2 separate regions of the Homo sapiens genome follow, and region 2 is linked to region 1. The links come from fine-mapping of genetic effects on gene expression. Tissue or cell type: whole blood. Region 1 holds a variant in brackets; the other region holds the start of a gene. All regions are shown on one strand. Distances are between the middles of the regions.

Region 1 (2,687 bases):
AAAAACTAGTCAGGCATGGTGGCATGCACCTATAGTCCTAGCTACTCAGGAGGCTGAGGTAGGAGGATCACCTGAGCTCAGGAGGTCGAGGTTGTTGTGAGCCGTGATTGAGCCACTGTACTCCAGTCTGGGTGACAGAGTGAGATCCTGTCTCAAAATAAAGTAAGAAAGAAAGAAGCTAAACAAACATCAGTATGGGGATAGATACACAAATTATGGCACTATTATTACATGTAATAATAGTGTTAAACTAAGCATAGTGAATGCCCACCAATTTCAGAGAGTGGTGGTCCCCAGGAAGGGAAGGAGAGGAATAAAAACAAATCAAGAGGACTTCATGTTTAAGTGTTATACTTTATTGTTATTATTATTATATTTAGTATTTTAAATCTATTTTTAAAATTAAAAAAAATTTTTTTTTTTTGCAGAGATGAGCTCTTGCTATGTTGCCCAGGCTATGTTGCTATGTTGCCCATGCCTGTAAGCCCAAAGTGCTAGGATTACAGGCATGAACCACCACATCTGGCCTGTTTTGGGGTTTTAAAAGAGAAACCGAAAGACTGGAAATGTAAGTGAGTGGGTCTCAACTTCCTCTTCTGGAGTTTCTCACTGTCAAGAGATGGGGACAAGAGTCAAGTTATTTAAGGGTGAAATCTGGCAACAGACATGGTGAAGATTGAAAAGCCAGACACATCTCATCAAAGCCCCATCTGCAGTCAAAAGAATGAGGAAAACCATGGGGCCAGGCATGGTGGCTCATGTCTGTAATTCCAGCACTTTGGGAGGCCAAAGTGGGCGGATCACGAGGTCAAGAGATCAAGACCATCCTGGCCAACTTGGTGAAACCCCATCTCTACTAAAAATACAAAAGTTAGCCAGGCATGGTGGTGGGCGCCTGTAATCCCAGCTACTCAAAAGGCTGAGGCAGGAGAATCGCTGGAACCCAGGAGGCGGAGGTTGCAGTGAACTGAGATGGAGCCACTGCACTCCAGCCTGGTGACAGAGCGAGACTCCTTCTCAAAAAATAAAAAAAAGAATGTGGAAAACCAGAGAACTGTAGATTCCTTTTGTTTATTTGTTTGTTTTATGAGACAGAGTCTTGCTCTGTCACCAGGCTGGAATGCAGTGGTGCCATCTCAGCTCACTGCAACCTCTGCCTCCCGGGTTCAAGCGATTCTCCTGCCTCAGCCTCCTGAGTAGCTGGGATTACAGGTGCATGCCACCATGCCCGGCTAAATTTTTGTATTTTTAGTAGAGATGGGGTTTCACCATGTTGGCCAGGCTGGTCTTGAACTCCTGACCTCAGGTGATTGATCCGCCTTGGTTCCCAAAGTGCTGGGACTACATGCGTGAGCCACCGCACTTGGCCAGATTCCTTTTTGAAGGGACTAATTCATACTTAGGTAGGGAAGGAGTCCCTAGGATTTAGAAGACAGAATGAGAGCTGAAAATAATGAAATCTGATTATAAATTGTAAGAAAACAGGGGAAGTAAATATATCATGAAAAGGGTCACC[G/A]ATTAGTTTGGAATCTCACTTATAACAATTCTGCTGAATTGTCTCTTACTTTATGGTTGTCCTCCAGATAAGATGGGAGAAAAAATAAAATAAAAAACTTGTTCAGTTTCTCACAGCATTTATTGGGAGCATTTCAGATTACCTTGAAGGCATCAGTAAGGAATTCTCCATTTTTTTTCTTGGAGAATTGTAAGATGAAATGGAAGATCTATCCCCAAGAAGGGCAGATGAACCAAGTAAGGCAACCCACTCTTGGGCAAGAGGGATCATCTCTGGAGCAAGACTCAGGTGTGATGTTTCCTAACATGAGCGGGGCTGTTGAGTGGAGTGGTCACCGGTAGATTATTTGCAGTCTCTGTGGCCCCTAGGAGCTCAATTTTCAAAGCTGCTCATTAGCTAGATGTGTACAGTACTGTCATTTCTTCCCCTAAGGCAGCTCAAATCCTTAATGAGCACAGGTCAGACGTGAGCACAAAGGGGGAATTCCTGGATGGTTGACTTTCTGACCCCAAGGGACAAGCTGTATGTCATTCTCTTCCAACCACATTTCCTCTTATCCCGAGGGTATCTCATTCTTGGATCCTAGGATCGGACCCCTAGGGAGCTGGTGGAATCCTCCTTAGACAGAATCCCAGCTTTCTCTGAGTCAGAAATTGCTTTTTTTTTTTTTTTTTTTTTTCAAACCAAGTCTCACTCTGCGCCCTGGCTGGAGTGCAGTGGCGTGATCTCAGCTCACTGCAACCTCCGCCTCCCAGGTTCAAGCGATTCTCCTGCCTCAGCCTCCTGAGTAGAGTAGCTAGGATTACAGGCACACACGACACCTGGCAAATTTTTATATTTTCAGTAGAGACGAGGTTTCACCATGTTGGCCATGCTGGTCTCAAACTCCTGACTTCAAGTGATCCACACACCTCGGCCTCCCAAAGTGCTGGAACTATAGGCACGAGCCACCGCACCTGGCATCAGGTATTTCTTTATACCAACACAATAATGGCCTAGTACAGTAAGTTTTTGGAAAAGAAATGGTGACATAATGTTGACAAAATGCAGATAAAGCCCAAACCCAGTCTGAAACAAATGAAGAACAAAACCTAAAGTTGATAGGGTATGAAATGGTGCAGTGATGGTGACAAAAAATGGGGCCTGTGTGGGTTTCTCTTTAAATATTGAC
Region 2 (2,687 bases), 190 kb after region 1:
TCCCCGACCCCAGATCTTGGTGTTTTCACTTTTAGGAAGTCCGCATGAATCTTATCTATGCTCTTAACTACGTCCTAATTTTTGTGTTTTTTGTCTTTTTTATAGGAATAGGGTTTTGCCATATTGCCCAGGCTGGTCTCGAACTCCTGAGCTCAAGTGGTCTGCCTGCCTCAGCCTCCCAAAGTGCTGGGATCACTGGCGTGAGCCATCAGGCCCAGCCTCTATGTGCTAATTTTTGAACAAATTCCAATAGGAGCATTCTAGTCTCTGAGTGTGAGATGACCAAAAATCAAGCCCTTGTGAGGCTGAATAGAGTCGGGAGGCAGGGAACTTAAGGCTGTTTCAGGCCGACTTCCTAGAACTAAATTGAAAGGAAAACCCTCACTTTCCTCGCCTAAATAACAAAAGGACCAGAGGCTACTCCCTTTGACCTTTTCTGCTGGCAGATAGGAAATTGGCTGTCTGCAACAAATCAGACTGATGGCCGGTTGAGTCTTCATTTGCATAGAAGTGTAACTTTGTAACGTCGTAACTTCACCCTAGCCTTTGATTGGTTGCTTTTTGCAACCAATCAGATGTTTGCACAGGAGTGTGACCTTTGTAACTTCAGACTCTGGTTGGCTGCTTTCTGCAACCAATCAGACTGAACGCGGGCTACCGCTTCATTTACAGGAGGTGAGCATGAAGTGGCCAATGGGAAAATTCTAGGAGGTATTGGGACTCATGAAGGTTCTGTTTCGGAGCCCTTGAGCTGCCGCTTGGCCAGTTCCCACACTGTGGAGTATGCTTTCGTTTTCAACAAATCCCAGCTCTTGTTCTTTTGTTGCTTCATTCTTTCTTTGCTTTGCTGGGCGTTTTGTCTAATTCTTTGTTCAAAACGCCAGTAACCTGGACAGCTTGCAGTCAAGACCCCCTACCGGTGACACTTGCGCTCTTCGGGGAGGTAAACAGCATTTCCTCTCAGCTCTGGGTTGGAAAAAGCCGCAGCAGCTGATGGGCCCGGGAACCCGAGGCCCCGCCCCCTAGGTGGTCCTAGCCTTTGCGCGTGCGCGGCGTGTCTGCGTGGGCGCATGCGCATAACGGCCGCCATCTTAACAGCGCGTTCCCGTTGGCGTCTGAGGTAAGTTTTTGTTTCTGGGCGGCGTTCGGTGGTGTCCCGGTGCAGCCACGCGAGAGTAGAAGGGTGGAAAGGGGAGGTGCCCAGTGAAATGGAGCCTGTCCCGTGCACTTTCGGGCATTTCGAGCATCTTGTGGGCTCTCCCAAGTCGCGGCCCCTCCTCTGAGAGCCACAGTCAGGTCTGTCCTCAGGGGTCGAGGCGGCTGCGCTGGGGCCTCGGCCCGGGAGGAGGCGGGGGGCACGGCCTTTCCATTTTCCCTGCTCCCCTCTGCAGAAGCCTCATAGGGCCCGGCGCGGCGGCTCACGCCTGTCATTCCCAGCGCTTTGGGCGGATTGGGTAGGAGGATTACTTGAGGCCAGGAGTTCAAGACCAGGCAGGGCAACATAGGGAGACCCCCCCCCCCAACCATCTCTAATGGAAAAAAAAAAAAAAGTCTCCACATCCAGCGTTGTGCCTTTTCTCTATAAGGAACAGCATCTCTGCCTTCCTGTTCACGGTGACCTTCGCTTGGTGTCCTCCTGGCCTCAGCAACCTGACAATTCTGTCGTGTCCCGGTGAGCACTTCATGCACTTGTTCTGGCTGTGGGTGTCGGGTCTTGAAGTTTAAGTTGTGTCGAGGTGGAAAGAAACCTTTTCAGGTGGTTGTTCGAGAGCACATGGATCTGATACCATCGAATGCATGAGTGGATGAATGCACATAACTGTAAAATTTACCACCAAGGAAAAACACAGGACTACTCAACTGTGGTTCCAGGCCATCACCTAGATCTCACTCTAGCGCCCTGTAGATTCCCCCAGAGGTTCAAAACGAGGGCATCCCCAGGAACACGGTGCGGGCTGATTTACTAGCAGGAGGGATTGAATTGATAATGAATGCGAAGATAACTTTTGACAGGTGGGTTTTCTACCAGTTACTCATTTGAAAGTCTTACTGAGGGCGGGGCAAGGTGGCTCACACCTGTAATCCCAGCGTTTTGGGAGGCTGAGGCTGGAGGATCGCTTGAGCCCAGGAATTTGATGCCAACCTGGAAAAAATAGGGCAAGCCTCTGTCTCTACTAAAAATAAAAAATTAGCTGGGCATGGTGGTGTCTGTGGTCCCATCCACTTTGGAGGCCGAGATGCGAGGATCACTTGAGCATGGGAGGTCGAGGCTGCTGTGAGCCATTATTGTGTCACTGCATTCCAGCTTAGGCAACAGAGTGAGACCCTGTTTCAAAAAGAAGAAAAAAAAACAAATACTGATCTAGAGAACATCTGTAGCTCGAGTAAAACAAATGTCTTTAGTCCAGGTGTGGTGGCTCACGCCTGTAATCCCAGCATGTTGGGAGGCTGAGGCTGGCGGATCACGAGGTCAGGAGTTTGAGACCAGCCTGGCCAACATAGTGAAACCCCGTCTTTACTCAAAATACAAAAAATTAGCCGGGCGTGGGCACCTGTAATCCCAGCTACTCAGGAGCCTGAGGCAGGAGAATCGCTTGAACCTGGGAGGCAGAGGTTGCAGTGAGCCAAGATTGCACCCTTGCATTCCAGCCTGGGCAACAGTGCGAGACTCCGTCTCCAAAAAAAAA

What was found. PIP is the estimated chance that this variant, and not a neighbour inherited with it, causes the effect.
Region 2: it holds the start of ZNF559, and the variant in region 1 is fine-mapped to the expression of ZNF559 in whole blood (INTERVAL, PIP 0.99).

Annotation. Positions count from the first base shown.
Region 1 is chr19:9,130,608-9,133,294 of GRCh38, forward strand. No RefSeq gene overlaps it. Among named protein-coding and RNA genes, the nearest start is that of OR7G3, 5.0 kb to the left of the region's middle. The variant G/A (reference allele first, on the strand shown) is at 1,517.
Region 2 is chr19:9,323,109-9,325,795 of GRCh38, forward strand. ZNF559 (zinc finger protein 559) reads left to right here and starts at 1,071. Exons shown (of 7, transcript NM_032497.3): 1 at 1,071-1,120; 2 at 1,587-1,672. ZNF559-ZNF177 (ZNF559-ZNF177 readthrough) reads left to right here and starts at 1,071. Exons shown (of 13, transcript NM_001384659.1): 1 at 1,071-1,120; 2 at 1,587-1,672. RefSeq lists an enhancer at 915-1,164 and a silencer at 1,335-1,474.